7 linked regions of the Homo sapiens genome follow. The protein of the gene in region 4 purifies or fractionates together with the protein of the main gene of each other region. This does not show direct contact. Each region holds a gene or a part of one and is shown on either strand. Other genes may lie near its edges.

Evidence for each region.
Region 1: the proteins of NOP58 (region 4) and RRP9 purify together in Homo sapiens (affinity purification with mass spectrometry; 2 studies listed by BioGRID and IntAct, with this or other methods). This does not show direct contact.
Region 2: the proteins of NOP58 (region 4) and POLR1E fractionate together in Homo sapiens (co-fractionation; one large-scale study listed by BioGRID). This does not show direct contact.
Region 3: the proteins of NOP58 (region 4) and RUVBL1 purify together in Homo sapiens (affinity purification with mass spectrometry; 4 studies listed by BioGRID and IntAct, with this or other methods). This does not show direct contact.
Region 5: the proteins of NOP58 (region 4) and NOP2 fractionate together in Homo sapiens (co-fractionation; 2 studies listed by BioGRID). This does not show direct contact.
Region 6: the proteins of NOP58 (region 4) and KPNA1 purify together in Homo sapiens (affinity purification with mass spectrometry; 3 studies listed by BioGRID and IntAct, with this or other methods). This does not show direct contact.
Region 7: the proteins of NOP58 (region 4) and POC5 purify together in Homo sapiens (co-immunoprecipitation; 2 studies listed by IntAct). This does not show direct contact.

Annotation. Positions count from the first base shown.
Region 1 is NC_000003.12:51,932,929-51,935,916, reverse strand, and holds the end of RRP9 (U3 small nucleolar RNA-interacting protein 2), read left to right. Parts: intron 1-224; coding exon 225-325; intron 326-440; coding exon 441-575; intron 576-657; coding exon 658-720; intron 721-1,140; coding exon 1,141-1,286; intron 1,287-1,365; coding exon 1,366-1,445; intron 1,446-2,135; coding exon 2,136-2,209; intron 2,210-2,317; coding exon 2,318-2,411; 3' UTR 2,412-2,488; downstream 2,489-2,988. UniProt on the Homo sapiens protein: Component of a nucleolar small nuclear ribonucleoprotein particle (snoRNP) thought to participate in the processing and modification of pre-ribosomal RNA (pre-rRNA).
Region 2 is NC_000009.12:37,495,948-37,499,447, forward strand, and holds part of POLR1E (DNA-directed RNA polymerase I subunit RPA49), read left to right. Parts: coding exon 1-39; intron 40-2,143; coding exon 2,144-2,277; intron 2,278-3,500. UniProt on the Homo sapiens protein: Component of RNA polymerase I (Pol I), a DNA-dependent RNA polymerase which synthesizes ribosomal RNA precursors using the four ribonucleoside triphosphates as substrates.
Region 3 is NC_000003.12:128,113,813-128,117,312, reverse strand, and holds part of RUVBL1 (ruvB-like 1), read left to right. Parts: intron 1-3,500. UniProt on the Homo sapiens protein: Possesses single-stranded DNA-stimulated ATPase and ATP-dependent DNA helicase (3' to 5') activity; hexamerization is thought to be critical for ATP hydrolysis and adjacent subunits in the ring-like structure contribute to the ATPase activity.
Region 4 is NC_000002.12:202,282,763-202,286,262, forward strand, and holds part of NOP58 (nucleolar protein 58), read left to right. Parts: intron 1-1,582; coding exon 1,583-1,719; intron 1,720-3,500. UniProt on the Homo sapiens protein: Required for the biogenesis of box C/D snoRNAs such as U3, U8 and U14 snoRNAs. Part of the small subunit (SSU) processome, first precursor of the small eukaryotic ribosomal subunit.
Region 5 is NC_000012.12:6,561,792-6,565,291, forward strand, and holds part of NOP2 (28S rRNA (cytosine(4447)-C(5))-methyltransferase), read right to left. Parts: intron 2,458-3,500; coding exon of another isoform or gene 2,359-2,457; intron 2,156-2,358; coding exon 2,100-2,155; intron 1,981-2,099; coding exon 1,823-1,980; intron 1,724-1,822; coding exon 1,524-1,723; intron 1,380-1,523; coding exon 1,290-1,379; intron 181-1,289; coding exon 93-180; intron 14-92; coding exon 1-13. UniProt on the Homo sapiens protein: S-adenosyl-L-methionine-dependent methyltransferase that specifically methylates the C(5) position of cytosine 4447 in 28S rRNA. Required for efficient rRNA processing and 60S ribosomal subunit biogenesis.
Region 6 is NC_000003.12:122,466,440-122,469,939, forward strand, and holds part of KPNA1 (importin subunit alpha-5), read right to left. Parts: intron 991-3,500; coding exon 883-990; intron 1-882. UniProt on the Homo sapiens protein: Functions in nuclear protein import as an adapter protein for nuclear receptor KPNB1. Binds specifically and directly to substrates containing either a simple or bipartite NLS motif.
Region 7 is NC_000005.10:75,686,438-75,689,937, forward strand, and holds part of POC5 (centrosomal protein POC5), read right to left. Parts: intron 2,729-3,500; coding exon 2,575-2,728; intron 892-2,574; coding exon of another isoform or gene 773-891; exon of another isoform or gene 511-772; intron 1-510. UniProt on the Homo sapiens protein: Essential for the assembly of the distal half of centrioles, required for centriole elongation. Acts as a negative regulator of centriole elongation.

The sequences.
Region 1 (2,988 bases), on a different chromosome or scaffold from region 4:
GCACTCCAGCCTGAGCAACAGAATGAGACCCTGTCGCTAAAAAAAATAAATAAATAAAAAAGACGTCTGCATCTGCTCAGGGGCAGATGGGCATGTGGGCAGTACAAAATTGCCTCACAGCACGTGCCACATGGCTTGCTTTTTGGGAAGTCCTCCCTGGGCCTGACCTGTCTCTCGCCTGCTGTAGTCCAGGTCCCCTTTGCCCTCTCCCCATGCACCCTTAGGGTCTGGCATTCCGCAGAGGCACCCACCAGCTCTACAGCACATCCCACGATCGCTCCGTGAAGGTGTGGAATGTGGCAGAGAACTCCTACGTGGAGACGCTGTGAGTGTGGATGGGAGAGGGTGTGTGGATGGTGTGAGAGAGGGTGTGGGAGTGTGTGCCCGTGAGTTCATGCAGTACCCCTATCCCCACTATCCTGCTCTGCCCGGCCCTCTAGCTTCGGACACCAGGACGCTGTGGCTGCACTGGATGCCTTGAGCCGGGAGTGCTGTGTGACGGCTGGGGGCCGGGATGGGACTGTACGTGTGTGGAAGATCCCCGAGGAGTCCCAGCTTGTCTTCTATGGCCACCAGTAAGGTGGCCTGCCATGCCAGTGGGGGCTACATGGGCTGGGGGTGGGCTTGGGCCACGCTCCTCACAGCCCCTTTCTCCAGGGGCTCCATCGACTGCATCCACCTAATCAATGAGGAGCACATGGTGTCCGGCGCGGACGATGGGTAAGAGGTCCTTTGGATGTCTCTGGCCACGGCTTCTGCTCCTGAGTGCTGGCTGTCCACGGGGCCCTGAGCTTGCCTCAGGGCACCCCCAGTGGGGGAGCTGTTGTAACCTCTTTTCATGGATGAGGATGATGAGGCAGAGAGCTCAGATGGCCTTGTCCGGGCTGTGTGCCCTTGATCCCTTCCTGTCATGTGGCCTTTTTTCTTTTTTTTTAGAATTAAAAAAAATTTGTTGTGGGTGCTTAGTAGGTGTACGTATTTGTGGGGTACTTGAGATGTTTTGATACAGGCATGCAATATGTAATAATCACATCATGGGAAATGGGGTATCCATCCCCTCAAGCATTAATCCTTTGTGTTACACAGGGGGCCTTTTCTGCCTCTGGCCCCCTCACTGCTGTATTCCCTCCCTGTTTATAGCTCTGTGGCCTTGTGGGGTCTCTCCAAGAAGCGACCACTTGCCCTGCAGCGTGAAGCTCACGGGCTGCGGGGAGAGCCAGGCCTGGAGCAGCCCTTCTGGATATCGTCGGTGGCAGCCCTCCTCAACACAGACCTTGTGGCCACAGGTGGGTGCCCTGAGAGGCAGGGAGGAGGGGTCGCCGGGTGGGCCGGTGCAGGGGTTGCTCACTGTTCCAGTCTCCCCAGGCTCCCACAGCTCCTGTGTGCGGCTTTGGCAGTGTGGGGAAGGCTTCCGGCAGCTTGACCTTCTCTGTGACATCCCCCTGGTGAGTGAGTGTGCTTGAATGCTCAGCCTGTCTCTGCCACACTGCCTAGGCCCCTGGAGTTAGCTCTTTAAGGTCTTTCTTCCTGCCAGAAGGGAACCTTCTCAGGGCAGGGCCAGCTCCTAGCACAGGGCCTGGCAGGAACCCTCCCCACTTTCCCTCCTCTGCTCCCCTTCCTATCCTAGGCCCTGTCCAGGGTGCTGGGGTACAAGTCAGGGAGCAGCATGGGGAGAGGCATGGAGGCCTGGCCCTGTGATGAATTCTGTACTGCTGGTGCCAGATTGGGTGCCAGGCTAGAGGGTGTGGACCTCACTGTCCACACTAGGGTGACCTGGGGGAGGGTGGCAGGATCTGTCAGTGATGTGTGCTGAGAATGCAGGGTCTAGGTCAGTGGGGACAGTCATGGGGTCTCCAGGGCCCCACCACCAGGAGCCAGCCTCAGGCCATACTGGGTGTACACTGCCTCCTTCATCCTCACAAACTCACTGCTAGCCCCGTGCTCTGCTTACCCCCATCTCGCAGATGTGGAGGCTGAGGCCCTGACAAGTGAAGGGCTGGCCTGTGTCACCAGGTGGCAGGAGGCAGAGCAGGGATTTAACCCAGGCCTGATAAGGCCCAGCCCTTGACTGTGATGCTGAGGACGGTGGTGGCGGGGGGCGTTCTAATGTCTTTCCGTGTTGTCTTTCTGCTCAGGTGGGTTTTATCAACAGCCTCAAGTTCTCCAGCTCTGGGGACTTCCTGGTGGCTGGGGTAGGGCAGGAGCACAGGTATGTGTGGCCCTCGAGGGTTCAGGTAAGGTGGTGCAGGCTGGACAGCTCGGTGGAAATGGGGTGGAGACTGGGCCGAGTCTCAGCTGCGTCTTGCACTCCCTGCAGGCTTGGCCGATGGTGGAGAATCAAAGAGGCTCGGAATTCTGTCTGCATCATCCCACTCCGCAGGGTCCCTGTACCCCCAGCTGCTGGTTCCTGACACTCTTATCCTCCTTATTTAAGTCCTTCCCAGGCTATGCCCCACCCTCTTTGTATTAAAAGCCTCCTCTTTTGGGCCTTGTTTCTTGTAGCTTCTTGGTGGGGGTGGGGGTGCATGAGGGACTGGGTGGGAGGCGGCCTGGGGAGGGACAGGACTCCAGCAGTCTCCTAGCTCTGCCCCTCTGCTAGCCTGAGGGCTGTTATCCTTTTCCAAAGAACTTGGGATGGAGACCTCAACTGGCTCCTGGCTCCTGTCCCTGCGTGTCCTGCACGACCTCCTCAGGCTAGCTGCCTGCCACTGCTCTGGGTGGTCGGGGTCAGAAGCTACTCACCCCTCAGCTCAGAAGCCAGGGCTTGTAAGGGCTGGTGCTGGGGTCAGGACTGGACTGTAGACAGCGGACCTGCACATCAAACTGGCTTCGCTTCCTCTCCCAGGTCAGGTCAGGAAGCTGGAGGGGACAGACTGCCGTGAGGTGTGGGGGTCAGGAGTGGGAGTGGGACCCTGCACTGGTGGGCTTACTGTTTGGAGACAGGGGTCCAAGTTGGGAAGAGCTCTGTCTTTGGTCTGAATGTCAGAA
Region 2 (3,500 bases), on a different chromosome or scaffold from region 4:
CACGTCAGAAGAAATACTGAAGATGATTGAGGAGAACAGGTACCCTGACTTAAGCAGATGGGGATTCTGGGGAGTGCTGTTGGGACCCAACAGTAGTCAGACACTGTGCAGGTCCTCTGGGCGTCAGTCAGTGAGGAAGTGTGTCTGGAGCATTGGACATGAATGAGCCAGTGTTTTCTTGAATGTTTGGGCTTTCAGGAGCTGTGGGTCACATTCGAGGGAGAGGGCTGGTCTCTGAGTCCGTGGGACCTGCGACAGGGCAGAGGGTGGTGAGGCCTTCTACTCTGGGGCTGGGAACTAGAGCTGGCCTGTGTCACCCAGTGTCATGCTGGTGCTGATTGTCACTGGCAGGGCCCAAATGCTGGCCTGGGAATGGGTGCTGGCCAAAGTGATGGTTTCTCTGTGATGATATGGTAGGCAAACTTTTCTAACATTAAATTTATGTATTTAAAATATTGTATATTTTAAATAATTCAGAGATTATTTCCTTCTCCCTCCCCTTTCCCATTAAAACAGCTTCTTTTATGATAGTGAGTTTTTTTTGCTTTTGAGTTTTTTCTTTTAATAATTTTATTTTGATAAAGAGTTGTCAATCTGAGGTTTGTTCCTCCAGTTTTTGTTTTAAAATTTTACTGGTCATTGAAATCCAGTGCCTTGGAATTATTATTATTATTTCTTTTTTTTTTTTTTTTTTTGCTTCAAAGATTTATTTCCAAAAAAGAGCTCATTACTAGTTCATAGTTGTCTTAATGTGATTGTGACTCAGGGGCAGGTGCAGGAACGAACTCTGAGCGGGGAGTCTGAAAACTGAGTCCCCGAACTCTGCCCTTATCTTCCCTTCTTGAAGCCTCAGTTTTTCTATCTGTAAAATGAGGCATCTATGAGATGATCTTGAAGAGCCTTTTTATCTCTGTGAGTCCAGGGTCTTGCTAGCAGTAGAGCAGTGCCTGAAAATAATAGTTAGCATTGACTGAGCCTTAACATTTTTGCCAAGCACTGTTCTAAGAGCTTTACTGGCATCATCTCTTAATCCAGAAAAAATGCTCAGGAGGAGAGTACCTGTACTATCATTGGCCCCAATTTATAGATGGAGAAACCAGGGCACCAGATACCAAGAAACTTGCCCCGCTGGGCACGGTGGCTCACACCTGTAATCCCAGCACTTTGGGAGACTGAGTCGGGCAGATCACCTGAGGTCGGGAGTTCAAGACCAGCGTGACCAACATGGAGAAACCTCATCTCTACTAAAAATACAAAGTTAGCTGGGCGTGGTGGTGCATGCCTGTAATCCCAGCTACTCAGGAGACTGAGGCAGGAGAATCGCTTGAACCCAGGAAGCGGAGGTTGCGGTGAGCCAAGATTGCGCCATTGCACTCCAGCCTGGGCCACAGAGTGAGACTCAGTCTCAAACAAACAAACAAACAAACAAAAAAAGAAACTTGCCTAAACCATTAAATGGCAGAGAAAGGATTGAAACCCAGGCAGGCTGACTACAGAGTCTATGCTCCTGACTATAAAAACAGAGGTCAGAGGTTAGCAAACTACAGCCCACATGCCAAGTCTGGCCTGCTGCCTGTGAGTAAGTAAAGTATAAATAAAGTTTTATTGGAGCACAGCCCTGTTCATTTACGTAAGTAATATCTGTGCCTGCTTTCGCACTACGATGGCAGAGTCAAGTAGTTGCAACAGAGGTTGTATGGCCTCCAAAGCCTAAAATATTTACTGTCTAGCCCTTTATTCATCCCTGCACTGAACCATGTTCTCCTATTATAAGGAGTGTTGAGTGTACTGGCCCTTCATCAGCTGCTTTTGTTCGTTTGTTTTTTTTTGTTTCTGAGACAGGGTCTTGCTCTGTCACCTAGGCTGGAGTACAGTGGCGCAGACAGCTCACTGGAGCCTCGACCTCCTGGGCTCAAGTGATCCTCCCGCCTCAGCCTTCCGAGTAGCTGGGACCACACACATGTGCCACCATGCCGGCTACGTTTTTGTAGAGATGGGGTCTTGCCTTGTTGCCCAGGGTTTCATCAGCTGTTGAGTGCGTCGGGGTGAGAGGCGCCTGCTGTTCTCGTTGTAAGAGGGAAGTAGTTCCTGACAGAGCCCATCTTACCCTGACACAGGCCTCCTTTTCTTTTCCTTGTTTTAGCCATTGCACCTTTGTCATAGAAGCGTTGAAGTCTTTGCCATCAGATGTGGAGAGCCGAGACCGCCAGGCCCGATGCATATGGTTTCTGGATACCCTCATCAAATTTCGAGCTCATAGGGTAGTTAAGCGGAAAAGTAAGTCTATGATAAACATTTTATTCTAATTGTTTCCAGTATATTATTTGTCTGTAATTCTTAGATGAGTTCTGATGAGAGAAGAAAATGGATATGTCTGTCCAAGTCTTTACTGTCAACTGTGAGATTCATTCTGGTACTGCTGACATGTCGAGGGGACTTGCCAGGCCCCTTTTTCTCTCTGGATCTCCCATTTTCTCATCTGAAAATTGGGGCCACGTTGGATTATATGATAGTTCAGGGTCCTTCCAGAGCTAACATTTGCTACTTCTATTCTGCATGAGGCAAAGTAGAATATCCAGGTCAAATAAAAGGAAAACTTTAAGGGACTGTTAGAACAAACATCAGCCACGTGTGTGCGTGTGTGTGTGTATATATAGAGAGAGCTTATGAGTTACACAGATGTATCTTGAAGGCTTGTGGCAGGTTTGTGTTGTGTCAGCTTATTTCTAACAGGAGAGAGTCAATCTGATGGTAACCCAGTGTCACCTGTAGCTAGGATCCTTTGCGGGTCACACCCTCATACCTACCCAGAGTTGGAAACCCAGAAGATGTCTGTGGTTTTAGGCACAAGGTGTATTTAGTTGTTGTTACTGTGATTGGGCATCCAGTAGTCTATACTCCTGTTTTTCAGTATAGTCATGTGTCGCTTAATGATGGGGATATGTTCTGAGAAATGTATCCTTAGGCAATTTTGTCATTGTACAAACATCATAGAGTATATTTACATAAACCTAGATGGTATAGCCTACTACACACCTAGGCTATATGCTATAAGCTGCTGTTCCTAGGCTGCAAACCTATACAGCATGTTACTATACTGAATATTATAGGCAATTGTAACACAATGGTATTTGTATATCTAAATATATCTAAACAGAAAAGGAATAGTAAAACTATGATATTATAATCTTACGGGACTGGCTGGGCATGGTGGGTCATGCCTATATCTCAGCACTTTGAGAGGCCAAGGTGAGAGGATCACTTCAGGGCAGGAGTTTGAGACCAGCCTGGGCAACATACCAAGACACTGTCTCTACACAAAAATAAAAACATTAGCTGGGGTGGTGCACGCCTGTATTCCCAGCTATTTGGGAGGCTGAAGCAGGAAGAGTGTTTGAGCCTAGGAGTTCAAGGTTACAATGAGCTATGATTGCACCACTGCCTCGGTGACAGCAAGACCCTGTGTGAAAAAAATCTTATGGGACCACTGTCACATATGT
Region 3 (3,500 bases), on a different chromosome or scaffold from region 4:
ACCCTGGGCTAGAGCTTCTCGTTTTGTCCTCTTTGTCTTTTAGCCTCTCATATTTGTTATCTTTTTGACTCTGCTAAATTATGGGTAATTTCTTTTAGATCTTTGTTCCAGTCTAATTGTCTCTTAAGCTATGATTAAGTGACTGATTAATCCAATCTATTGAATATTTTTTTCCTTTTCATTTTGAAAAGTTTGGAACCTACAAAAAACTTGAAAGAATAGTGTGATGAGCCCCTCTATACCCTATACCTAGATAGCCAGTTATAAATATTTTGTGACATTTGCTTTTTCTCTAGTTTATTTCTGAACCACTTGACAGTAAGTTGTAAGGATGTCTTCCTACATGACCACGGTGCCATCATCAGACCCACCTTGCTAATGCTATTATATTCCCCCAATTTTTGTCAATTAAAAATTAAATTAATTAATTTTTAAAAAATGAGCAGCAGAGCCAGGGAGAGAATGGTGTCTCAGGAACCAAGAAAGGAGAACCTTTAAAGAAAGGAGTAGGTAACCATATCCACTGTGGTAGAGAAATCACAAAGATGAGGGAGCCTGGCAGCTCATCATATGATTCCATGAGCAGTTAACAAATGTGCTTTCAAAGACAACGAAGTTAAATTGTTTTAATGAAAAGAAAATATAGGTGATAGAAATCAGAAAACATCTTTCCAAGTTGTTTCAGTTTTTGGCTTTTTAAAAAACACCAGAATATCAAAATGCAATCAAAGATTACACACTGCATAAATTGTTACAAGTTATAATGTCTTTTTTTTTTTTTTTTGAGATGAAGTCTCGCTCTCTTGCCCAGGGTGGAGTACAGTGGCGTGATCTTGGCTCACTGCAATCTCTGCCTCCCAGGTTCAAACGATTCTCCTGCCTCAGCCTCCTGGGTAGCTGGGATTACAGGTGCCTGGCTAATTTTTGTATTTTTAGTGGAGATGGGGTTTCATCATGTTGGTCAGGCTGGTCTCGAACTCCTGACTTTAGGTGATCCACCTGCCTTGGCTTCCCAAAGTGCTGGGATTACAGGCGTGAGCCACTGTGCCTGGCCCCCAGATGTATTTTGTTATGGCCCACCTTTTTTACTCATGTGTGGCCCTTCAAGAGTCCTCTTTTATGTTTTTTTTTTAATTGTAATGTTTTTGTTTGTTTGTTTGTTTTTTGAGACAGTTTCAGTCTGTCGCCCAGGCTGGAGTGCAGTGGTCTGTTACCCAGGCTGGAGTGCAGTGATCTCGGCTCACTGCAGTCTCTACCTCTTGGGTTCAGGTGGTCCTCCCACCTCAGCCTCCTGAGTAGCTGGGACTACAGGTGCACACCACCACGCTTTGGCTAATTTTTGTAGTTTTCGTAGAGATGGGGTATCGCCATTTTGCCCAGGCTGGTCTTGAACTCCTGGGCTCAAGCAATCCACCTGCCTCGGCCTCCCAAAGTGCTGGGATTGCAGGCTTGAGCCACCGTGCCCAGTCCCGGTTTTATTCAGGGGTTTCTATCTTAAGTGCTATACCTTGCTGAGCTTTCCTGTATCTACAGTCTCTGAACTTTCAAGGCAAATAGTTTACTGCTCTGAATGTTATTATTTATTCAATTCTAGGTGTTTTGTAAGAGGAGAGGTTTTCAGTGGACCCAGTGTGCCATATTGCTAGAAGCATATGTCTTTCATTTTTTTTGGTGATATTGTATTGCTTTCCTCCCAGGAAATATGAGAAGTGCTCAGCACTGTGGTATTACCTTATAAGTTTGTCCACTCCCTTCCAATGTGTATGAAGGAATTTGGTGACTTCTGCTTAATGGTTTGCTGCAGGGTCCCAAAGTTTAGGCAACTTACCTGGGTGACAGGCAGAAATACTGCTTATTTTAGAGATGCAAATGCATGGTTCATATGCATTTCCACTCTTGAGGACCTCACACTGTTAATAATGGGTTTGGGTTTTAGAAGAAGGAGATATTCAGATGAGATTGAAAAATAGAGATTTCTTCAACCTTCTTTTGGCAACAACCTCTTTTTTGTGCCACTTGTCACTCACATGGGGTGAGTACAAAAAAAAATGGCTTTGGAGATTGGGGTTTGCATCCTGGTGCTGCTGCTTGCGGTTTTACCTTGGGTGTGTTGGTAACTTTTGAGTTTGTTTCTTAATCTATAAAATACAAACTAGATGATCAAGGTCATAGGCTAGTTGGGGAGATTCGATGAGGTCTATGCAGCACTCTGTAGTAGGTGTAGGAATAGTAGCCATATCATATACTTTCCCTCTGGAAGTCTTTAAATGGAGGAAACGAGACACACATGAAGCTTTTTTTTTTTAACCAAGTATTTATCATATTTTAATGGAAGTATGTTCATCTCTTCTGTATTAGTTAAAGGGAGGGAGAGTGCCATTGAATTGGATGTGGTCACTGTCTTTGAAGTTCAAAACTGAGGGTAGGGAATTGGGGCTGGCAGAGATACAAGGAAGAGAAAGGAGTAACTGGGAAGGGGTGGTCCTGTCCAGCCTGTGGCCCCACGGGGAGTCTGCTGTTAGAGTGCTGCTCCTCTCATTGTGCCCTTTCATGTTCCAGAGATTTTTTTCCTTTGCTCTTAGAAGAATACCAGTTTTCAAGGTGTCAGCCTTGAGCTCACAAGTGCAGATGCCTAATGAGGCAGGCAACGGGGATGAGGGAAGTGGCTGGGTGCACTGTGGCGTGTCTGCCTTGAGCCCCAGGTGCTCGGCCTTGCTGAAGGTCACCATGAGACTGCAGGCCAAACAGAACCAGGCTGTGAGCAACGAGTTTGCCACTTGTGATCTAGCATGGCACTTTAGTACTTTCATTTGACAGATGAGGAAATCGGGCACCTGAGATTTGCTGAGTGCCCAAGGTCACACTGAAAATTAGTGGCAGAACCAGCACTAATCTTTCTGTTCCTGGCTAGTGCATTTTATACTGTGCTATACACTGATTCTCTACCAGATTTTACTACCTCAAAACTATCACCAAAAGGGCATAGAAAAGAAAATCTGAGAGGAACCTTGACTGTTAATTTTAAGACACCGTCTCAGTTTCACTTTGTTCTTCAGTAACAAGCTTGTTTTCAGTCTTAGCCCATATACCTGGGGAGCTGGCCTTACTCGTGCTCCTGTTTCAGAGTTGAGGAAAGATGAAAATGGCATTTAGAGGCCATGGCATTGCCCAGTTCTGTACCAACTTTAAAGCATTTGCTTGCCATACTTGACATTTGACCGTACACCTGTGAAGTCTGGTTCTGTTTAGCATTTGCCAGCTGTAATTATCTTGTCAAAAATCAATTTGTAGTTTACCACAGGGCGTGTTTAAGTGTAACTTGTTAAGACCAACTCATAGCTTCAAAATCCTACTTGAGGTATCCTTCTTCACTCTTTGTGGGCTACATAACATAAAATGAACAATCCATTCATTCATTCCTTCATTATTTCTGATGGGTTGTAGATTGGTGTTTTCCTGTATTTGTAAAAAGAGAAAGCAGGTATCTCAAAGATCCAGTG
Region 4 (3,500 bases):
TCTAGCCACATTTTTTTCCAACGAAAATGGGGTCCTTATATTTTTTAGAAATATATTTATTAGAAAACTTTTAGTAGGGGTGTATTGCTGGAGATGAAATAAAATGTGAGAGTGGAAAGAAAGACTAGGAAAATAGCCTCCCAAATACAGAAAGCAGAACAATTCGGGCGGGGCGCGGTGGCTCACACCTATAATAATCCCAGCATTTTGGGAGGCCAAGGTAGGAGTATCACGAGGTCAGCAGATCGAGACCATCCTGGCTAACACAGTGAAACCCTGTCTCTACTGAAAATACAGAAAATTAACCGGGTGTGGTGGCAGGCGCCTGTAGTCCCAGCTAATTGGGAGTGCAGTGGCGCAGTCTCACAGCTCACTGCAGACTTGACCTCCTGTTCTCAAGCAATCCTCCCTCTTCAGTAGCTGGGACTACAGGCACATGCCACCATGCTGGCTAATTATTTTATTTTATTTTATTTCATTTATTTGAGACAGAGTCTCACTCTGTTGCCCTGGCTAGAGTGCAGTGGCATGATCTCGGCTCACTGCAACCTCTGCCTCCCGGGTTCAAGGGATTCCCCTGCCTTAGCCTTCCAAGTAGCTGGGATTACAGACGCCCGCCAACACGCCCTGGCCTCCCAAAGTGCTAGGATTACAGGCATGTGCCACCACGCCCAACCTGTAATTTTTTTTTTTTTTTAAGACGGAGTCTCACTCTGTCGCTAGGCTGAAGTGCATTGGCTCAGTCTTGGCTCACTGCAACCTCCGCCTCCTGGGTTGAAGTGATTCTCCTGCCTCAGCCTCCCGAGTAGCTGGGACTATAGGCACCTGCCACCACACCCGGCTAATTTTTGTATTTTTAGTAGAGACGGGGTTTCATCATGTTGGCCAAGATGGTCTCGATCTATTGACCTTGTGATCCACCCGCCTCGGCCTCCCAAAGTGCTGGGATTACAGGCGTGAGCCACCGCGCCTGGCATAACCTGTAATTTTAAAAAGAAGCTAAATAACAGGTAGTAAAAGATCTCCTTAAACCAACTACTTGGTCAAATTATATTAATCTTTTTATAGCTTTTAATTTATATAGCCAAGCTGTCTTCTGGAAGCTTGTATCAGTTTTTACTTCCACCAGTGATACAGTCAAGTATTCTACAAACACACTGGAAATTATGCTTCTTGTCCAACTGAGAAATGCGTATATTTAAATTAGTGCCACTTTAATATTTAGGAAATAATTTCAGGCTGGGCGCGGTGGCTCATGCCTGTAATCCCAGCACTTTGGGAAGATGAGGCGGGCGGATCACTTGAGGTCAGGAGTTTGAGACCAGCCTGTACAACATGGTGAAACCCCGTCTCTACTAAAAATACAAAATTAGCTGGGCATGGTGGCTCATGCCTGCAATAATCCCAGGCCGAGACAGGAGAATCTCTTGAACCCAGGAGGCGGAGGTTGTAGTGAGCCAAGATTGCGCCACTGCACTCCAGCCTGGGCGACAGAGTGATACTGTGTCTCAAAAAATAATAATAACAACTTCAGGAAAGTCTTTTTTTTTTTAATTTAATATAGATGTTCATGTTCTTGTAGGAAAAGCTGAATCTCAGTTGTATCCATAGTCCTGTTGTTAATGAACTTATGAGAGGAATTCGTTCACAAATGGATGGATTAATCCCTGGGGTAGAACCACGTGAAATGGCAGCTATGTGTCTTGGATTGGCTCACAGGTGAGAATTACTGGAAAATAAAGTCAACTTACTTTTATTTGATAAGCGCTTAACATAGATCTGTTCTAAGAATGTTACAAATGCTCATTTGAACCACATCAGAACCTTATGAAGAAGATGATAGTAATATCCTCATTTACAGATGAAACTGAAGCCCAAGGTCAATACAGCTGGTAAGTGGTAAAGCCAGGATTTGAACCCAGGCAGTCTGGCTCTATTGTCTGGATTCTTAAAACCTTAAAACCTCATCAAAGGAATTCTCTACTACTCTGATCTTGGATGCCCTGTTTCTTGGGCTTTCCCTCCTTTATCTCTGCTAAGTCATGCCACTCCTCCATCTACTTAGTATTCCCCCAAATTCTCTCATCTGCTATGGTCTTATGGGATAGGTGTGTATTTGTGTTTTCATTGCTTTACTCTGATTTTTAATAAGGCAAAGAGGACTAGGTGCAGTGGCTCACCCCTGTAATCCCAACTCTTTGGGAGACCAGGAGTTTGAGACTAGCCTGAGCAACATAGCAAGAAATATGTCTCTCTCTGTGTTTTTTTGTTTGTTTTGTTTTTGTTTTGTTTTTTTTGAGGCAGATTCTCACTCTGTCGCCCAGACTGGAGTGCAGTGGCGTGATCTCTGCTCACTGCAGCCCCTGCCTCCCAGGCTCAAGTGATTTTCTTGCCTCAGCCTCCGAGTAGCTAGGATTACAAGCGTGCACCACTACTGCCCAACTAATTTTTGTATTTTTAGTAGAGACGGGCTTTCACCATGTTGGCCTGGCTGATCTTGAACTCCTGACCTCAAATGATCCATCCGCCTTGGCCTTCCAAAGTGCTGGGATTATAGGCATGAGCCACCACACCCGGCATTTTTTTTTTTTTTTTTTTTTTTTTGAGTCAGGGTCTCACTCTGTTGCTCAGGCTGGGGTGCAGTGGTGCGATCTTGGCTCACTGCAACCTGGACATCCTGGACTCAAACAATGCCACCTCAGCCTCCCAAGTAGCTGGGACTGCAAGTGTGCGCCACCATCCCTGGCTGATTTTTTAACTTTTTGTAGAGACGGGGTTTTGCCATGCTGCCCAGGCTGGAACTCCCAGGCTCAAGTGATCCACTTGCCTTAGCCTCCCAAAGTGCCGCGACTGCAGGGGTGAGCCACCATGCCCAGTCTTCTCCCTATTTTTAATTGCATGTTAACCCTATCATATTTCATTAGAAGTCCCTTAGAATAGGCATTATTGCTATGTTGTGATACATCTGTTCATGAAAAGCTTAATACTTTGGAATTGCACTACAGTTAACAGGGTTGTGAAGAAAATAATGGTAGGTAGTTGCTCAAAACCTGTGCAACTTTGTAATCAGTACTGTCAAATAGTAATCCTAATAAAATTATTACCACAGTTCAAAAGACATTTTAAGCTAATATTAAAAGAAACACTACAGGCTGGGCACGGTGGCTCACGCCTGTAATCCCAACACTTTGGGAGGCCAAGGCAGGCAGATCACAAGGTCAGGAGATCGAGACCACGGTGAAACCTCGTCTCTACTAAAAATACAAAAAATTAGCCGGGCACAGTGGCGGGCGCCTGTAGTCCCAGCTACTTGGGAGGCTGAGGCAGGAGAATGGCGTGAACCCGGGAGGCAGAGCTTGCAGTGAGTGGAGATCGCTCCACTGCAGTCCAGCCTGGGTGACAGAGTGAGACTCCATCTCAAAAAAAAAAAAAAAAAAGGGAGAAAGAAACACTATAGGCCAGGCGCAGTGGCTCACGCCTGTAATACATCCCAGCACTTT
Region 5 (3,500 bases), on a different chromosome or scaffold from region 4:
TCGGGGGTAGCACCTGTGGAGAAGGACCACCCTGTGACATGCGGTAGGGACAGGGACAGAGGTAGAAGGGCTCTTGGGTGGGGGAGACTTACCAATGGGCACAGAAGAATCATACACCACTAGTCCAGTCTTTGACCACTTGCCCAGGGGATCCAGGTTAACCCCACGATTGATTAGAGCCTGAAAAGGGATGAAGATTTTTTTTTTTTTTTTTTGAGATGGAGTCTCACTCTGTTGCCCAGGCTAGAGTGAGGTGGCGCAATCTCGGCTCACAGCAACCTCCACCTCCCAGATTCAAGCGATTCTCTCGTGCCTCAGCCTCCTGAGTAGCTGGGACAACGGGCATGTACCACCATGCCTGGCTAATTTTTGTATTTTTCATAGGATGGGGTTTCACCATGTTGGCCAGGCTGGTCTCTAACTCCTGACCTCAGGTGATCTGCCCGCCTCGGCCTCCCAAAGTGCTGGGATTACAGGCGTTGAGTCACCGCGCCCGGTAGGGATGAAGATTTTAATAACCTCATAGGCTACTCTACCCAGAAGACAGATGAAGACATTAAACACATGCTTCATAAAAACATGGCCCATACCCCACAACTCCTATAGTGCTTACTCCAAACACAGTCATCATGGAGTCATTGAGCAGTTTCTCTCTCCCACTCCATCCTATGGTGCCCTTTTTTCTTAACCTCAGGCTCCTAACTCAAGATCTGAACTTCATCCCAATGGAGCAGGATGCCACCTCCTGTTACTTTATTTCCTAGAAGTGGCATCTGATTTTCTAAGAGGCTGAGCCCCTCCACTATACTAAAAATTTAATGACATTGGTTATACCACATTACATTATTAGGTTTTCTTCACACCAGGAAATATACAACACATATAACCCAACAACTGACTTTACAACAGGGGTCTTTAACCTGGGGCCCCTGAACCCTTGGAAATGAGTTTAAAATATTGACTGTGCATATGTGTCTTTTTTGTGCAGTCAGGAATCATATTTCCCCAGCTCCTCAATGATCTCCCTCCAATTTCCTTGGGGGCAGCACGCTCATCCTGAAGTCTCATCATCCTAGTCACAGGGAGCAGAGTATGAACTTCCCATTCCACAGAGGTCCTAGGCCCCCAGATCCTATCCTGCCAGAGACATCAGGCCTCTGGGTTTGCCCCCCCAGGATCATGCTTAGGTCCTAAGGCCCCACCCAGTCAGGGTAGCACAGAGGAATCTCTGGAGTTGGCAGAAGTCACTTCCCTTCTGAGATGAGTGAGCCTCAAAGGCCACCCCTCACCTGTGCAAGGTCTCGGCGTCGGGTTTTCAAGGTATTGGTCCGGAGGGTGACGGGCCGAGGCACCTCATTAGCTTCTAAGAACTCCACCAGCTGCGGGGCAAGACAGCAGGGAATAAGTGAGGCTGGCTAAGGAGCTCAGTCAGAAGAGGGGAGCAAGGGGGCCGAACATCTTCCTTACACAGCGTAAGGAGGCGAGAAAAGAAAAGCAAAAGAGGCATTCTGGCAATCCAGTACCTCAGACAGAGGGAAGAGGTCCATGAGCTTGCCAAGCAGGAAGTCTCCATAGGAGTAGTAAATGGCCAGATCCTTCTTGAGCCGGTTCAGGTATTCAGAACGAGACCGCCCTTCCTCCCGCTGAGCCCCAAAATCACGCAGAATTCCCACAATATCCTGGATCCGCTTGTGAACTCGTTGCAGGTCTGGAGCCTGGGCATGTGGGCCTGTTAAGGAACTGTGTCATGATGTCCTAAGGCCTGGAAATCCCTCTCCCAACCACCTTCCTCCTAACTCTTCACTCTGCCCTGCAAGGATATCCTGCTCCATCTCCCCAGCAGGGGGCAGCACAAATGGTTCCTCATCCACATTGATCTGCAGGCCCCCATCTGCCTCTTCCACCTTTGGGGGGCCTGACTCAGGGGTCACTTCTTTCTCTTCCTCCTCGTCCTCGGTCTCCTCTTCACTCCACTGGATCCTAGAAACAGGTCCAGGAACAGAGTGATTCACAGACCAAAACAGATACCTCCTCCTTCCTCACAGCTTCCCCACCCCAGTGGCTTCCTATGCTCCATCCCAATAGCTTCCAAAACTCACCCAGCAGCAGCTTCCCGGGCCTTCTGCTTCCGAGCAGCTCTTTCAATGGGCAGCAACTGAAGAGAGACAAGGGCTATTAATACAGGCCTGCCCTTCCATCAGCCCTTGTAGCAGTTCTATCTCTATATCTTATTTTTTCGCTAAATAAAAATCCAACACTTGCTCTCAGAAGGAAATAGAGGAGCAAAGAAATGAAAATAAGATGGGCGCAGCATTGCTCACTGTTGAAACTAAGTAATGAGGGCATGGTGGCACACACCTGTAAATCCCAGCTACTTGGGAAGCTGAGGCAGGAGAATTGCTTGAACCCGGGAGGTGGAGGTTGCAGTGAGCCAAGACCGAGCCACTGCACTCCAGCCTGGGCAACAGAGAAAGACTTCATCTCAAAAAAAAAAAAAAAAAACCTAAGTAATAAATTAAAGGGTTCATTACATTTTTCTTTCTACTATTATGTTTTTCACTTTTCCATTAAGAAAAAAAAAAAACTTGAAAAATACCTGGATGTATAAAGAAGGACAAAAATGGCCCTTGACTACCATTCTGCCATATTTTTTTTGAGAGAAGTCTCGCTCTTGTCCCCCAGGCTGGAGTGCAATGGCGCGTCTTGGCTCACTGCAACCTCCGCCTCCCAGGTTCAAATGATTCTCCTGCCTCAGCCTCCCAAGTAGCTGGGATTATAGGCGCGCACCACCATGCCCAGCTAATTTTTTGTATTTTTAGCAGAGATGGGGTTTCACCATGATGGCCAAGCTGGTTTTGAACTCCTGACCTCAGGTGATCCGCCCACCTCGGCCTCCCAAAGTGCTGGGATTACAGGTGTGAGCCACCGTGCCTGGCCCATTTTGTCGTTTTTTTTTTTTTTTTACTTACTCTGTATTTTTCACATAATCCATTTTCAAGTTTGTTTCTTGCTTTTTAGACTTCAGTTACATCACAGGCATTTTCATAGACATAATGACCAGTGTAACTGCATCATATGCATGAACCATAACTTACTTAAGCATATTGTGTATTTTGGAAGTTTCCTGAGTTTTTGGCATTATGATCCACATGGTGCCTGCAAACCTAATAATGACCCTGTAGATACAAGGGGATGTAGGAAGGGGGTGCACATGGGGACCTTCTCTTTTTATTCTATACGATTCTAATAATACATCCACACACTAATTGTATAATAACTTCCTGCACCTCAGTAAAGAACTATTTGCTGACATTTTGGATCATCTTCCTTAATAGGGAATTACTATGTCAAAAGGAAGCAGTTATTTTTTTTTTTTTTTTTTGAGACAGTCTCACTCTGTCACCCAAGCTGGAGTGCAGTGGTAAGATCACAGCTCACTGCAGCCTCAACCTCCCAAGCTCCAGTCATCTTCCCGCTTCAGCATCCTGAGAAGCTGGGAC
Region 6 (3,500 bases), on a different chromosome or scaffold from region 4:
TTCTTTTTAAAAAAACTGTGTGTGTGTACACATATATATATATGTACACATATATAACCTATTTTTAAAATTACGTAATTACAATACTCTAGAAATCTAGATAGGTCTAATCCATACAAATAAAGCATGACTTTTATCTCTTCATGTTAACTTCAAAAAAGTAACAAAATGGTTTACAACAGAAAAATCCAAGAGTTCTGATGTGGAATCAAGTTTTTAAATCATACAAACAGGTCAATTTTGTAAATCAATAAAAAATCATTATTTTCTTTAAAGTATCTCTTATGGCTTGGTGTGATGGCTCAAGCTTGTAATTCTAGCACTTTGGGAGGCCAAGGCAAAAGGATCACTTGAGGCCAGGAGTTCACCTGGGCAACACAGTGAGATCCTGTCTCCACAAAAAATTTAAAAATTTGCCAGTCATGGTGGCACATGCCTGTAGTCCCAGCTATTTGGGAGGCTAAAGCAGGAGGATCACTTAAGCCCAGGAGTTCGAGGTTGCAGTGACCTACGATTGCGCCACTGCACTCCAACCTGGGCAACACAGCAAGACCCTGTCTCTAAAACATAAATAAATAAATAAATAAATAAATAAATAAATAAATAAATAAATAAGGTGTCTATTCTTATTCAACTTTTAAAGAGTAATTTTATCTTATAATTAGCTTGTTAAGTTTTTAGAGCAGAATTAATCTTTATAATTTAACTGCACTTTATCCAAAATATAATAAACATTTAATGAACCATGAGATTAAGCATATTCTTTTTAAAAATGAAATGCCAAGTACTTTTTGTAGCCATCTAACCTTTTTTAAAACTCAAAAGGAAATCTACATCTCATATCTTCATCACAAAAACACTGAAAAGAGTTCATTATCTTACTGGTGCCATCTCCATGTTACTAATCTGAGCCTCATGAAAGCCTCCATCTGACATAACTTCTTCTTCTGTTTCTTCTTCTGCTGTAGCAACATTTCTCCGCTTGAATAACTGAAAGATAAAAGATTGGTAGCAATGTAAATGTAAATTCTAACACAAGGGAGTTCAACATTCAAATACTAGGCACCCCATTCAAAGTGAAGTCTTTGAAAATCATTTTTAAAATTCTAAAGCTGTCAGCTTTTACTGATGAGTAACCATTTCAGATTTCTCCATAGTCTTATAATCAAATATAATTAACTATTACAACATGCTATAAACAACACTTGATAATGTAAAACTTACTAAGAGAGGTCTGACACTATATGACATTAAAAAAAAAAAGGTTGGAAAAAGGAGCTGGGTCATGCTTGGCCATTTTCCTCATCCCTTTATGTAAAGTATACATCAGGACAGTCCTAACAATGTACCAAGGAAAATGAAAATAAAAACTATGTTCAAATGACTTAATACTTCCCTCCTAATCTCCAAAGATGGTGGACTGTGGCTTCTGACCTTCCCAACCTATCCAGCAACCAGTGGCAACAAATGATGACTGCTTAAGCACTACCTTTAAAGCAGCTCCGTTAATGTGTATAGGCAAAGGAGACTAGTTCTCTCCAAAGTCAGCCAACGAGGGTGATTACCATTATATCCTTATGAATCCTGGGCAGCACATTTATTCATCAAGCCATGATGGAGTAACAGTAACTTACCCTCTCTCACGCTGAACAACTAAAAACAGACAAAATACATAAAATAATGTTTCAGCCATTGGACAATAAAAACCACAGAGTAGTGATATCTCAGAAAGAAAAACCCAAGATAAGCCCCAATACTGCCTCAGATTACTATGCAGACAGTTCCAGGCTGCAGTGCAGGAAAGGTAAACTCAACCAGAGTTTAGATGCTCCTTGGATTTGAGAAAACACAGTTCAGAGCTGAGAAGGCCAAGAGACCTAAAATTCATAACGCAGAGTACAACACAAAAAGAACACCCAAGATCTACAGGAGGTTCTCTCTGAGATTTAACTTAATACTAATCAGCACATAATCATATTCTTTCAGAAGACAGAAGCAGAGACAGTACTTCTCAACTCATTCTAGGAGATCAGCATTACTCTTAATACCAAAACCACCTACCAAAGGCCTATTTAACAGTAGTTTCTTTTACCCAGTACATGTCCAGCTATCAAGAAAAAATTACAAGGCATACTAAAATATAAAAAACACATTTTGAAGAGACAGAGCAAGTATCAGAACCAGATTCAGCCACGGCAGTGATGTTGAGATTATCGGACCAAGAATTTAAAACTACGATTAATATGCTAAGGGCTTTAAATGGATAAAGTGGACAGCATACAAGAACAGATAGGCAATGTAAGGAGAGAGATGGAAATTCTAAAAAAGAACTAAAAAGAAATGCAAGAGATCAACAACAACAGAAATGAAGAATGCCTTTGATCGACTTTTTAGTAAACAAGACACAGCTAAGGAAATAATCTCTGAGCTTAAGGAAATCTCATTCGAAATCTTTAAAACTGAAAAGAAAACAGAAAAAGGACTGACACAAATAGAACAGAGTATCTATGAACTGAAACAACTACAAATGGTATAATAAACATGGAATGGAACTATCAGGAGGAGAGGAAAGAACAAAAGAAATATTTGACACAATAATGACTGAGAATTTCCCCCAAATTAGTATCAGACACCAAACTGTAGCAGGCCATGTCTCATTAATGCAGGGCTCCATAACAACTGTTTCAGTACTGACTGACTGGTTAAGTTAAATATTAAAAGCTAAAAAAAGCCAGTGCCCTTATACAAAGGCTGGAATCTAACAAAAGCCCACCAAGAGTTTTGCCTAGGCCTTTCCTGGGCCTTAAAGCATAACAAAGAAATTCCCCAGGCCTCCACAAACAAGTTTATTGGATGTCTGAAAGAACTCCCCAAACCTCCACGAGCAGGAGACAAGATAAGGGTAATCACCTCAGCACCTAGATTAAGTAAATTTACTGAGACTCCAGAGGAAGGTCTTCAAGACTCAGACCTTAGTTACAGATTAAAAGAAGTTTCATCACTTATGTCTTTAGATGAATACACACTTACACGCAGACATATAGCTTAAAAGGTATATAATATCTGGAAAACTTTGTAATTTCGAGTTGGTCTGGCAATAATTTCTAGGCCTTCTCCCTGTAACCAGGTACAAAAATAAAAACTCTCTTCCTCCCCAGTTCATCTGCATCTTGTTATTGGGCCATGAGAAACAGCAGCCCAACCCAGTTTGGTCTGGGAACAAAACCACTGGAAGCCCAGAGAACACCAAGCTGGACAAAGGCCAAAAAAATCCCACTACACCTAGGGATATCATTTTCAAACAACAGAAAATCAGAAATAAAGGAAAAACAATCCTAAAAGACAAGGGTAAAAACACTGTACTTAACACATGAATAAAGATAAGAATGATAACCACACATGCCAGAAGAAAGTGAAGTGAAATATTTGAAGTGTTGAGAGAGAAAACCACCAACCTAGAAACTCTGAACCTTGCAAAATCATCCTTCAAAAGTGGAAAC
Region 7 (3,500 bases), on a different chromosome or scaffold from region 4:
TCTGTATAGAAAATTTGCAGAGTATTAGTTAGTTAGCTTATTTAAGAAGTTTAACAATGATTACAGTGCCTACCTAGATCCTTTGAACTCCTCTGATGAAAGGGACTAATTCAATATAAAATACTTTTAATTTGAAAACAAAACACACACTGAGTTTTAACTTGTTTTGGTAGAGATTCTGAGTGTCTATCTTTAGATGGTGGCAGACATTAGGAGATGTAGAAACAGTATGAAGGTCAGGGAAGAGAGGCAGGTGATCAACTCTTGCTAATATAGGCTGATATCAGATAACTCTTAAGTTTAATAATTAATCTCATTTTAGCTGGAATAAATTTTTCACTTGTCAAGTATTTTTTTTTACTGTGCCTAATTGGCACAGTAAAATTGGCAGATATAATTTTAAGGACTTTTTGTCATGTTCTAACTTCTTCATAAAAACCTCTAATTTGTAAGATTTAAGATACTGCACAACATGAGAGGTACTGCAAATTACAGACAGCAAAGAATCGGTACAAATAAAAAACCAAATATTTATTTTGCTCTAACAAGACAGATGCATTAGGAACTTTACATTATTAAAAACTGCATTATAAAAAACAATTTTTTTTTTTGTGAGATAGTCTCGCTCTGTCGCCCAGGCTGAAGTGCAGTGGCATGATCTCAGCTCACTGCAACCTCTGCCTCCTGGGTTCACGCCATTCTTCTGCCTCAGCCTCCTGAGTAGCTGGGACTACAGGTGCCTGCCACCACGCCCGGCTAATTTTTTGTATTTTTAGTAGAGACGGGATTTCACCATGTTAGCCAGGATCGTCTCGATCTCCTGACCTCGTGATCCACTCACCTCGGCCTCCCAAAGTGCTGGGATTACAGGTGTGAGCGACCGCGCCTGGCCTATAAAAAACAGTTGTTTTAATAGAAGGGGGCCAAAAGTAATTTTTTTTTCTTATGAGAACTAAAAAAAATAGGTGTCATTAAAATGTCATAAAACCTAAATATCACAAAGCAGATCCACTGAATTATACTGAACTTTTTTGCCTTTGGTAGCTCTACCAACATTATTGCTAATGCATGCTTTACCATTCTTGTCATCTTTCTCATCGATTGTTTCAAAAGTAACAGGAGCAAAAGAAATCATGTTGTGTAATTAGCAGAAGACATTTTCTTCAAATCCTCTTATGGATATTGGCCTTTAGGAGACACAGTTGCATTTCAATTTACATTTTAAGATGGTAAATGTATTAAGGTGGGAAATACTCCTAAGTCAATTCAAAATCTTTTTAAGTAGGTTATAAGAAACAGGTTTCTTGTAATTTAATGTAAGAAGTTCTAATAGGAATTTGTCACTTTACTTGTGAAACTCATATTTCTCCCAAGTAAACAATTAAATTTCTCAATTTGTGACACACAACTTGCTGATACTTAGAACTGAAACAGACTATTCTATCATTGAAGGTGGTGAGTTTGTTTTCAACCCTGATACTCAAATAAAAGACCATTTATTGGAAAAATCAAGTACTCACCTAGGTATTACCAAAATAAACTATTCAGCCTTGAGATTCCATGATTCTCAGTTTCTAAATTAAATATGGCCCACAAACCACAACCACTTCAGATAGAAAGCAATTTGCCTAAACTTACTCCTATCCACAATATGCATGCTTTAAATAATAAATGTTTGTTGATGTTTTAAAATAAGGGCATCACAAGCACAGAGAAGTTATTCATTGGATTGAAATCATGTTAATCATTTACAAAATCTTGAGACGTTGACTTGAATTAAAACTATTAATAATTACATCATGACTATCATCTTACACGTTAAAGTGCATTTTGTCTTTTAAAGTGTTTTCAGATATGTTTTACTGCATCCCACAAGAAGCCCCTAGGAAGCAGGTAAGGAAGGTTTATATTATCTCCTTCGCTCAGAGAAGAAATCTAAGGCCGAATGAGGAAAACAGGCCCCTGGGTAAATTGGTGGCAAAGGATTCTAGTTATGGGCTTTTCTACGCCATGCTGACAAAACTACTACACAAACCACTCTTATGTCAGACAATATGTGGATTTTTAAAAAAAATAAAATTACTTCTATAGATAGGTCTATATTTATGTTTGCTGCAATGAGCTTAGTTGAGGCCTTTCATAAACAGGAAGATTAGGAATTTCTAAAATGAGAAACCATGACTAGATAACAAATACTTACCAAAATAGTCCAAAATATTTGGCTACTTAAGAAAAGACAAAATTAGAAGTTTTGTACTTAAAAAGGCATTAAAATTCTTAGTTAAAAGAGATTTAAAATAATGCTATACATTAAAATATTATTTTCAACATTTAGCTTAAATACTTAGGAGTGACAGTGTACTTGATCAGATCTAAGATACCATAAGTAACCATGACTGAGCTCATTTTCATGGCAGATTTAAGTCTGGATATGACACCATAGAATTAAGAATAGCAGCACCTGGATGAAACATACCTACTGCAGATTATTTGTACTGTAGACCATACCAATCACCAAAATCTCCTCAAATCTTTTTTTGAAATTAGGCAGAGAAACTTTAATGAAATACTAACCTGCATCATTTCTGTTTTGAAATATAGTCATGGCTTCAAGATTTAATGCACATACACCCCTCATGAAAGCTTTTTTCATGGAATCTTCAAAGTGCTCTTTTTCATGTTGCATTCTTTGAATCTCAGCTTTTGCATTTTCCAAAGCTCCAGATAACTAAAATAAGAATGTTTAAAAAGCAAAACAATTTGAGATACAAAGAAGAATACTGTCAAAAAAATAGATATATACTTTGAGATTATTCTCATGTGAAATATTAAAAAGTTTGTCACTTACCTCTTCTGCTATGTGCAATTTATTTTAAAAGGTACCTCTTACCTCTATTATCTCCATCAACAAAATGCTTTCATTCCTAACCTTAAAATCAAGGTTCAAACAAGGGGAATTTTATCCAGTCCCATTGAATATTGCTGATGTATTTTCATTTCACAAAAAGATACACCATTTTTTACTGTAAAACTTTTATGTAGGATGTTAAACAAAATACATTAAGAGCCACAGACAGCCCTTTCAGAAAAAAATAAAATAAACTACATGCCTGCAATATTAACAGAATTTTTATAATGTAAATGTTACCTTCAGTATTTGAAGTGCAGAGTGACCCTAGGTACAACACACTTTCCCATAGGCCAAACCTCAGGGGACTGCATTTTTTGCATGTCGTAGTGAACTGCAGAAAATTATTTGTATTATGGATTTATTTTTAATCTTAACAATTTAATGCTGTAATGAGTTATTTTTTCATTTTAATATTTAACTTCAAGAGGCCTATTGCATTCTTTAGAATGGATTTTATTTCATTTCAATTCCAAATGTTTTCCCATGAAAACAATGTTAATTTTATTATTAAAAGTCAATGGGAAAAAATAATTTCAATTTCTTTTTTTCTTTTTTGAGATGGATTTCTGCTCTTGTTGCCTAGGTTGGA